Homo sapiens: one gene and its partners. The protein of the gene in region 3 purifies or fractionates together with the protein of the main gene of each other region. This does not show direct contact. Each region holds a gene or a part of one and is shown on either strand. Other genes may lie near its edges. The genes, in order: ITLN2, TMPRSS13 and PROS1.

Region 1 (3,652 bases), on a different chromosome or scaffold from region 3:
AAGGAAACCTCTGTTCATAGGGGGCAAGAGGACAAAGGCTGGGACTCACAAAAGGACCCAGGTCTGCTTACAGCTTACAGGAGAAACTAGACTCTACAAAAAGATTACCAAAAAGATCTGAGAAGGCCCAGCAGGAATAAGCAATGATCAGATGTGGCTGCCTATTGCTGTTTACACACTTCTCATCCAATTACCATGGGTTAGTTTCCCTGACCATCACCTGCTTTCATCAAAATATCAAAGGCAAACAGTGATGTCTTTGATTTTTTTATCCACAACTTAACTTCTGTGCTCTTATTATACTGAAAACTGTCTTTTGTAAGATAATTAAAGTTATCCTTCATAACAAAAGTAAATCTCTCTCACCACTCTGCTAGTGGTTCTTTCCTGTGAACCTCAGTGTGCACTTTTTTTTTTTTTTTTTTGACAGGGTTTCGCTCTTGTTGCCCAGGCTGGAGTGCAGTGGTGTGAACTCAGCTCACCGCAACCTCCGCCTCCCAGGTTCAAGCGATTCTCCTGCCTCAGCCTCCCGAGGAGCTGGGATTACAGGCATGCGCCATCATGCCCAGCTAATGTTTTGTATGCACCTTTTCTTAACTATTATTGAAGGGGTGGCCTGCCCCTCCACACCTGTGGGTGTTCCTCGTTGGGTGGAACGAGAGACTGAGAAAAGAAAGAGACACAGCGACAAAGTATAGAGAAAGAAAAGTGGGCCCAGGGGACTGGCGCTCAGCATAAGGAGGACCCGCACCAGCACCAGTCTCTGAGTTCCCTCAGTATTTATTGATCATTATCTCTACCATCTCAGAGAGGGGGACGTGGCAGGACAATAGGGTAATAGTGGGGAGAGGGTCAGCAGGAAAACATGTGAACAAATGTCTGTGTCATAAACAAGGTTAAGAAAAGGTGCTGTGCTTTTGACGTGCACATACATAAACATCTCGGTGCATTAAAAAGCAGTATTGCCGCCAGCATGTCTCACCTCCAGCCCTAAGGTGGTTTTCTCCTATCTCAGTAAATAGAACATACAATCGGGTTTTACACCAAAACATTCCATTGCCCAGGGATAAGCAGAAGACAGATGCCTTCCTCTTATCTCAACTGCAAAGAGGCCTTCCTCTTTTACTAATCCTCCTCAGCACAGACCCTTTGTGGGTGTCGGGCTGGGGGACAGTCAGGTCTTTCCCTTCCCACGAGGCCATATCTCAGGCTATCACATGGGGAGAAACCTTGGACAATACCTGGCTTTCCTAGACAGAGGTCCCTGCGGCCTTCCGCAGTGTATTGTGTCCCTGGGTACTTGAGATTAGAGAGTGGTGATGACCTTTAACAAGCATGCTGCCTTCAAGCACTTGTTTAACAAAGCACATCCTGCACAGCCCTAAATCCATTAAACCGTGAGTCAACACAGCACATGTCTCTGTGAGCACAGGGTTGGGGGTAGGGTTACAGATTAACAGCATCTCAAGGCAGAAGAATTTTTCTCAGCACAGACCAAAATGGAGTCTCTTATGTCTACTTCTTTCTACATAGACACAGTAACAGTCTGATCTCTTTTTCTTTTCCCCACAATTATAAGAGTATACAAGGTGGTGATGAAGAAACCTGGGATTACGTGCTGTGAAATGGGGATAACAGCAATTCTAACTTCATAGTTTTCTCATGGTAATTAAATGACACAAAATCATGTTAAGTTCCAAGACAAGAGTCTGGTGCATTTTAAGTGCTCAGTAAATACTAGCAATTATTAATTGTTGTTATTTGCCACCATTCTCCAAGAGTACAAGAAAATATTTATGACTGGACTTAGGGAGCAAACACTCACGTTGACCATACGGTGAGTAATAAGATGCAGTCTTCTTAGCATCACCAAAGTCATAGACCACAGGTATGGCTGGGCCATTGTCATTCCAACATTTCCCTGATCTGTATTTCACTGGGTATTTCTGCAGAGACCCAGAAGAAAGGTTTTGTGAGGACAGTAGAGATGCTGCCACAGTGTGGGGGGAGGAGGGGTTTCAAATTAACTGCCATTACCCAAAACCAATCCTCATAATAGTGACTGCTTTTCCCCATAGCTGTGTCTCCCCAACAGCCCCAAACCCCTTGTCCCTGTCTCTTTCTCCCCATGCTTTCCTGTCCCACAGGCCTCTTCCTTGCTGGCTTAGAGTTTCTGAGAGGCCAGACATGAGTTCACAGTGAATCAAAGGAAGGAGAAACAGCCAACCACTCAGTAGTGATGTGGAACCACAGGACAGATCTGCCCCCTACCCTAGACACTTCGATCTCTGTTCACCAAAGAAAGTGCCCCCCAGCCAGCAGCCCTGTGTACCTGGTAGATGCCAAACAGATTATGTCCCAGTCTCTGGAGGAAGCCAGTGTTGGTGCGGTACCTCAGCAGGGCGCTGTTTCTCCAATGCTGCATGGGGGACTTGTTGGGCACATGCCAGATGCCCAGGTCCTTGGCCTGGATGTCGTAGTAGCCAGGGTTCTGGAAAGCAACAGACACTGAGCCTGACTGGGCCAGGAGGTACCAGGAGGCAGAAGGTCCACATGTGCAGCCTCAGCTGGGCTGAGAGCTCTGGGATCAGTAGGCAGATGGCCAGCCACGCTCAGACACCCCACTCCCAGCTGATGATCCCACCACCACCCAGGGCCCTAACAGCCTTGTTGAGAGGAAGTTGTGATTCAAGTCCTGTATTTCTCTCTTCTTCTCCAGCCCTTCCCCATATCCCCACCTTCCAGCCCTCCCTCCTGCAGGCTGGTGGCCAGCCACACTCCACACCTCACCCTCACCCAAGTAGGAGAGAAGTGGCACCAACCTTGTAGTCATCGCTCGTGGCCGCCTCTGCAGATCCAAAGGTGTTGTAGTTGGCCCAGTTGCCATCCCCCTCTGGGTAGTCTGCTTTGTTGCCCTGCTGACTGGACCAGCGATCACCCACCGTGCACTTCCCACGCATGTCATTCTCGTGCACGCTGGCCACCAGGGTCCAGCCGCCACCCCCAGAAGTCATGTCACAGAAGGTCTGGTAGACAACACCATTCTTGGTGCGGAGAAAATACAGGCCATCTGTAGAGAGAACCAGCCCAGAGCCTCCCTGTCTGAGAGCTCAGGGTTCATCTCAGCTCCGTGAATAGAAAAGCCCTAGGAAGTCAAAAGCACACTCAGAAGACTCCAACACATACTTGCTGGAAGACGATGCTCCATGCATCTTGTGTTCTGCTCACCTATGAGCAGAGGCACTGACTGTCTTGGCTTCACACTATCTTTTCAAAGAGTTTGTAGAGCAAATAGTCTTAGAAGAGACAGAGATGGTATCTCCCTCTCGACAGTGCCACCCTGTGGCCAGGAGAGGCCAGAAATCAGCACACGCCACATCTGATTCTACAGCAGGATAGGGCCTCTGTGCAGCTCAGAGCAAAGGTTGTGCCCACTTCATAAGATTCAGCTTCCCTAAGCTCAGAGTTCCCCTCCTGTTCACAAGCTTGCAGGAGACTGGCTCCACGGTGGCATCCTGGTGACCTTGCACATTTGCGCATAGGCCACATAGGGACAGCTGACCTAAGTCTTGGCAGAAAGCCTGTGGTCTTCCCCAAACATGGAAAGATGGGAACCTTGTGAGGAGCTGCAACAAGGTCACTTCTCACCCCC
Region 2 (3,652 bases), on a different chromosome or scaffold from region 3:
TCTGGAGGGCCCTGAACAAGCCTTGGGTGAGGACCCTTGGGAGCTGCAGAGGCATAGCCAGGTGGTAGCAGTGACAGCCTGGGGTGTGGGCCTGTTCCATGTCATGGTAAGGGCTTACAATTGTGTTACTGCAGGGGGTAACCTCAGAGACTACCCCACGGGTAGGTGGGGAGGAGAGGCATGGTCAGGAAAGAATGGTTGGCAAGGTTAGGCCAGGGATGTGGCTCAGAGTTGACCACACTCCCCTGCTCCACCCTGTGCACCTGCCCCTGAGCAGGCTGAGAAGCCTTTGGTCTGCAGGCAGGTTGTGGAGACACCAGGACACATCAAGGAGTTGGTCATTTCACTTCCACTTCTGAGTCTTCGGCTCACTGCCAAAGGCCAGGATTTGGGAAGCTTGGGTTCTGGTCCTGGTTCTGCCCCTTGTAGCTTGGGACCTTGGATAAGAAGTCTCGGCTGGGCGCGGTGGCTCACGCCTGTAATCCCAGCACTTTGGGAGGCTGAGGCGGGCGCAAGATCAAGAGATCGAGACCATCCTGGCCAACATGGTGAAACCCCATCTCTATTAAAAATACAAAAATTAGCTGGGCACAGTGGCGCGTGCCTGTAGTCCCAGGTACTCAGGAGGCTGAGGAAGGAGAATCACTTGAACCCGGGAGGTGGAGGTTGCAGTGAGCCGAGATCACGCCACTGTACTCCAGCCTGGCGACAGAGTGAGACTCTGTCTCAAAGCAAACAAACAACAAACAAACAAGTAGTCTCCTCCCCTTCCTATTCCCCAGCTGCTGAAGGCCTCTACTCTGAGGGTGAGATCAGGCCAGCGGTGGGAGGCTAGAGTCTCAGCAGTTGTTCTCCAAGAATTGGGGAAAAGAAATGAGTTAGTGCTATAACAGGTTAGGTATCCAGAAGAACTTCCAGCAGCGTGGGGCAGCAGGCCGTGAAGTGCCTAAAGAAGGTTGGTGTGGAATCTCTTACTCAGATGATCCCTGAAGATGAGAACTCTTCTTGATGTCTGGGAGGGTTTGGGTTGAGGGTCAGAGTCAGGGGGTGGAGCGGGGACCTCACTCTGGATGCTGCTCTCCTCTGGTCTGGGGGCTGCCCTTCCATCCTGATGTCCCTGTTGGGACTTGTAGTTCTCTTCATGGGCAGTTCTTCTTCAGGTCTTGAGGCTCCAGAACTCTCCTCTTGCCCTGGTCTTGGGGTCCAGCCACTTTCCACCTGCCTCCCAGGCTCTGACAGCAGAGCACTTGCTCTACCCAGACCAGAGCTAGATACCCCCAGACCCAGGGCCTGCAGAGACTCCATCCCACTTTCGGATGTGTCGCCCTTTCTGCAGTTCTTGGCTTTCCACCAATGCCCCCTCCCCACCAGTTCCCTGTCTGGTCTGACTCCCTTCTCCTGTTCCAGCTTTACAGCTTTCCCCAGCTCCCTCCCCCCACCTGCCCACCCATTTTCCTCTGGGCCTCTTCAAGATGGGGCAGCTGGGGCTGGATGGGAGGGTTCTGTTCAGGTAGAGACAGCCTGAGCTGCCTGGGAATGAGACGACTGTGCTAGAGTTCCTAAAGACCACCAGCTCATTCAGGGGGTGAGGTGGGCTGTTTCGTCTCTCTGAGCCCCGGGTCCTTGTGTACAAACTGGGGATAGTAATTCCTGCCCAGCTTGCTAACTGAGAGACTTGTGAGAATCAAATCACATAATGGTGCAAAACTGCACATACGAGCCCTGAAGAGACGAAGGTAGGTCCTGTGGATGTTTGTGACACTGTAGGTCAAGGCCCTCCTTGCTCCAAGCAGGCCTGGTTAGAATCTGAGCTGTCACTTACCTGGTGTGTGAATTTGGGCATGTTCTTAACCTGCCTGGACCTCTGTTTCAATATCTATAAAATGAGGCTAACCATACCAACTGCAAAGAGCTGTCAAGAGGTTGGAATGGGGTCCCGTAAAGTGCTCGTGGGCTGTTATCTTTGTCATGGTTTGACACACATTTATAGACCAGGCTCTTTCATGTGTATCACCCATTTATCTGGGGGAAGGAGGTAAGGTCTGCCCATTTTACACATGTGGAATCAGGCACTGAAGGGTTATGTCGCTTGCCCAGGAAACGCAGTTGGGAATGGAGGCAATCAGATTCAGATTTTTCCATAGCAAGCCCAGCATTCCCACAAACAAACAAACAAAACCCCACTATCGGCTGGGTGTGGTCTGGTGGCTCACGCCTGTAACCCCAGCACTTTGGGAGGCTGAGGCGGGTGGATCATTTGAGGTCAGGAGTTTGAGACCAGCCTGGCCAACATGGTGAAACTCCATCTCTACTAAAAATACAAAAATTAACCGGGTGTGGTGGCGGGTGCATATAATCCCAGCTTCTCGGGAGGCTGAGGCAGGAGAATCCCTTAAACCCAGCAGAGGTCGCAGTGAGCCAAGATCGCGGCACTGCACTCCAGCCTGGGCAACAGGGCAAGATTCCAATACAAAAATTAGCCAGGCACGGTGGTGCACACCTGTAGTCCCAGCTACATGGGAGGCTGAGGCAGGAGAATAGCTTGAACCTGGGAGGCGGAGGTTTCAGTGAGCCAAGATCATGCCACTGCACTGCAGCCTGGGGGACAGAGCAAGACTCAAAAAAACAAACGAGCAAACAAACAAACAAACAAAACCCCTCCATCACAGACACGGCTCACCACACCCTCACTGTGTATTGGGCGTTTTACAGGCATGATCTGTGACCTCAGTACCACGAAGCAAGGTGCTTCGCTCTAGCTTACAGATAGGAGACTGAGATGTAAAGAGGTGAAGTCACTTGCCTGGGGCGCCCAGCTGCCTTAGAGGCAGGCCAAATTCCAGCCTGGTCTCTCTAACCCAGAGCACCTGAAAACTCACCTGACCCCGATGCCCCAGGCCACCAGGCACCTCCTGGTCTTGGCAGGTCACAGGGCCCCACTATGGGTCACACTGGAAAGTATCACAAGACCAAGATCCCTGTGGTAACCCCCAGCCCTATCCCCAGGTTCCCAAGGTGTTCCTGGCCCTGCAGGGCCAGGGGGCCCCATTCTTAACCAATCTCACAAAGGCAAAATGAGCACTCTGTACACGTGGTTCACGAAGACTGTGCAGGAAGCTCTTCTGACTCAAGAAGGGCAGGTGACTCAGAGACAAATAGGCATGGGGTAGAACCCTGACTCTGTGATTCTGCAAGATGAGCTCTGAGCCTTGGCTTTCCTATCTGTAAAATGGCCTTCCAAAATACCAACCTCCCAGGGGTGTGGTGAGGCCCTTGTGAGGCCACAGATGTGAACGTTTATTATCAACTCTAAAGTGCCAGTACACACACGAGTGATTAGTATTTTATTGTCCCGGCTTATGGGAATTCCCCCTGAAGTTGGGGAAGACTTAGAGTGTGCACAAAAGAGGAAGGAGATCAGGCAGGCTGGTGAAGGTGCCACAGTGCCAGGATCCCTGGCAGGAGCCGAGGCCCAGGCCACCCCAGGAGGGAAGGGCAGGGCCTTCTGCAGCTGGGGCTTGTCCATGTTATGGAAAGACCTTAGTCTGGCCTTTGTCCAGCATTCTTTTTCTCCTCAGATGAGCTCACAATGGCACTCAGCCCCTTCAGTTGGCAGGTCAGGGCTTTTCTTAACTAGTGCTTAACTAGCGAT
Region 3 (3,652 bases):
AGAAATACACTGACATCAGCAGTTAGTTTTGAAATCAGAATAGGAACCCTTGTTTTGTGAATCTCTTGTCATAATCCTTCACATTCTCTTTCTTAATTACTAGGTTAATTGTCTATCCCACTAACATGCAAGCTCTAGGAGGTATATATCTCTATCATTGCTTTGTTTTCCCCAGCACTCACTCAATAGATATTTGTTGAATTAATATGTTTCCAGAATAGTTGGATTACTAAAAATATTAGTTCATAATCTGAATGAAGTCTTCCTCATTTAATATGATGTAACATACAGCAAAGCCCAAATACCACACGGAGCCCTTGAAAGGGTAAATGTGAATAAGGAAAATCATTTTCCTTTGACAAGATGTTCTTCCACTTAGCCACATATAATGTCACTGTTTTTCATTATAATCCTGTAACTCCCATCCAGAAGAAAAAAAATATATAGACCGGGTACGGTGGCACATGCCTGTAATCCTAGCACTTTGGAATTGCCTGAGCTCAGGAGTTCGAGACCAGCCTGGGCAACATGGTGAAACATCTCTACTGAAAAAAAAATACAAAAAATTAGCCGAGCATGGTGGTGTATACCTGTAGTCCCAGCTACAACTCGGGAGGCTTGATTCAGGAGAATCGCTTGAACTCAGGAGGCAGAGGTTGCAGTGAGCTGAGATCACGCCACTGCACTCCAGCCTGGGAAAAAGAGTGAGACTCTGTCTCCAAAAAAAAAAGAATGTTTATATGTAATCATTGTGAAATAAGTAATTTTTAATTGATATATCATAATTGCACATATTTTGGGGTACATATGTCATTTGATAAATGCATACAATGTGTAATGCTCAAATCAGGGTAATTGGAATTTCTATCACCTAAACATTTATCTTGAAATAAGTAAATTTAACACAGAATATTAAACTCAAACTAAAATGAACACACGAATGTATAGAAGTTAAAATGTAACATTAAATATTAATTACAAAGTAGATCACTTACAAATTATCCATGAAATGATTAATTACTTATTAAAGTAATTTTTTTAGATACAATATAACTCTTATTTTCATTACCTTTTCAGGATTTTTTTCCTTTGGCCAAATCACCATGGATTTAGTTTTATCCTAATTTAATCCTCACCCCATTTATAACTTTAAAAAAATCTTTCATAGGCAGAACAGAACTAGGCATTGTATCAATTTGTGTTAGAAAAAGGGAAATCATTTTTGTAAAATTTGTCCTTAAAAATACAGTAAAAAAGGCTGGGCACAGTGGCTCATGCCTGTAACACCAGCACTGGGAGGCTGAGGCAGGAGTATCACTTGAGTTAAGGAATTTGAAAACTGACCTGGGCAACACGGGAAGACCCTGTCTCTGCAAAACATAAAAATTAGCAAGGCATGGTGGCATGTGGCTGTAGTCCTAGCTACTTGGGAGGCTGAGGCAGGAGGATTGCTTGAGCCCAGAAGGTCTAGGTTACAGTGAGCCATGATTGCACCACTGCACTCCAGCCTGGATGACAGAGAGAGACCCTGTCTCAAAAACAAACAAACAAATGTAGTAAATATAGACTACGAAAGATGGGAGGGTGGGAGGAGGGTAGGGGTTGAAAAATTACCAATTGGGTATCATGTTCACTATTTGGGTGATGTGTACACCAAAAGCCCAGATTTCACCACTACACAATATATCACAATATATGCATGTAAGAAATCTGCACTTGTACCTCCTAATTACATAAAAATTTAAAAATGTATTTTAATGTAGTAAGCACTTTTTTTTTTTTTTTTTTTGTGAGACATGCTCACACTCTGTCATCCAGGCTGGAGTGCAGTGATAAGATCCTGGCTCTCTGCTGTGTCAACATATTGGGCTCAAGCCATCCTCACACCTCAGCCTCCTGAGTAGCTGGGACTACAGGTGCATGCCATCAGGCTTGGCTAATTTTTGTATTTTTTGTGAAGATAGGGTTTCACCATGTTGCCAAGGCTGGTCTTGAACTCTTGGGCTCTAGCTCTTTGGGATCTGCCCGCCTCAGCCTCCTAAAGTGCTGGGATTATAAGTGTGAGCCACCTTACCTCGCCCTTTTTAGGTTACAAATAAACACAATTAAAATGTAATTTTTTTCTTAAAGCAGAGATATCACATTAGTGTTAACAATTTATAATGCAAAGTGTTAGTAGCTCAAATAATGAACTACTAAAAAAGAAAAAGACAAAGAATTCAATAAAATAATTAGAATTTATAAATAGCTAATAAACATATGGGAGGATATTCAAGTTCAGTAGAAATTAGAGAAATAATATTAATATTCAAACCTACAAAATTTAATTTTTGAACTATCAGATTGGAAAAAAACTAAAGCATACACTTTCTCATTCTGTTGGTAGAAATATTAATTGATAAAAGATTTTTGGAAAAGAATGTAATTGAACCTCTAATAATTATATATTTGCATAACCTTTGATAGAGATAACCTAATTCTAAAATTTTCTTCCATAGAATTAATCACATAAAGGTAGAAGGATGTATGATTTAGGATGTTCACAGAAGTATTACTTCTAAGGTTAAAAACCTAGGGTCAGTATGGCAAGATTCCCTGCTCCACTTAGGCTGTAGAAAAGTGGAAAGGGCACCACTCCCACCCTTACAACAACAAAAGCCAAATTATCTGCATAATCATGACTTTTCTTGAAACTATCAAAGAGCTGAGGTCGCAGAGCAACAAACTAACCAGAAACCTAAAGAAAGACAGGTGTTTCCAAGGAAAGCCAGAATGAGAACACTTTCTAATCCAGGGCAGACAGGAAATGCCATGCAATTTGGTAAAAATAATTTAGGTAAAGATTTAAACAAATTGCTGAACTCCATGTAGGGGCTGACGTAAGAGTTTAGAAGCCCTAGAAATTACAGACACAAAGACAATTCATGCTCATTCACAGGCTCTTCTCCACAGACCTTACCATGCACTCAAGAGAAAACAGAGTGCAGGGAAGGAGATCCGAAAAAGCCTCTCTCTTAATATGGTCCTGAAAGCAGCACCAGCTACAGGGAAGCCACAAAGCCCCATCTAGATCCTTCTCGGTCTCCTCTACACAACACAAGTTTTCAAGCCAGGAGAAAGGCAGCAAACCTTGTCATTAGGACACATATGAAGACTCATTGCAACTACAGATTAGGAAGAACAAACAAAAAAAGCTATCTATCATGCAGAAGGAGCAAGAAAACATATTGAGTCCTGATCACTAGACATCTCCCCTACTGATGAGAGTCAGGGAAGAGGAACAGTGAAAATTCCACACTCCTGAGACCCAGGGATACAACACCTGCCTAAGACTGAATTTGTACGACAACAACATAGAATGCTTCCCCAACCTCCGCATCTTCTCTGCCATGTTAGCAAATGTCAGGTAACAAGAGCACTCTGCTAGGGGTGGGCAAGACACTTGAGAGACACAAGTGGGAGAGACATTTTCTTGAGGCGTATTATGGAGGGAATACATAAAACTGAGCTGCTATGATGAAAAACTCTCTAGGCCAGGCACGGTGGCTCAAGCCTGTAATCCCAGCACTTAGAGAGGCTAAGGCAAGCAGATCACCTGAAGTCAGGAGTTTGAAACCAGCCTGGCCAACATGGCAAAACCTCGTCAAAAATA

The links.
Region 1: the proteins of PROS1 (region 3) and ITLN2 purify together in Homo sapiens (co-immunoprecipitation; one large-scale study listed by IntAct). This does not show direct contact.
Region 2: the proteins of PROS1 (region 3) and TMPRSS13 purify together in Homo sapiens (co-immunoprecipitation; one large-scale study listed by IntAct). This does not show direct contact.

What each region holds. Positions count from the first base shown.
Region 1 is NC_000001.11:160,948,221-160,951,872, forward strand, and holds part of ITLN2 (intelectin-2 precursor), read right to left. Parts: intron 3,071-3,652; coding exon 2,823-3,070; intron 2,492-2,822; coding exon 2,333-2,491; intron 1,947-2,332; coding exon 1,826-1,946; intron 1,703-1,825; exon of another isoform or gene 431-1,702; intron 1-430.
Region 2 is NC_000011.10:117,919,330-117,922,981, reverse strand, and holds part of TMPRSS13 (transmembrane protease serine 13), read left to right. Parts: intron 1-3,652. UniProt on the Homo sapiens protein: Serine protease. Cleaves the proform of PRSS8/prostasin to form the active protein. Cleaves the proform of HGF to form the active protein which promotes MAPK signaling.
Region 3 is NC_000003.12:93,879,787-93,883,438, forward strand, and holds part of PROS1 (vitamin K-dependent protein S isoform 2 preproprotein), read right to left. Parts: intron 1-3,652. UniProt on the Homo sapiens protein: Anticoagulant plasma protein; it is a cofactor to activated protein C in the degradation of coagulation factors Va and VIIIa. It helps to prevent coagulation and stimulating fibrinolysis.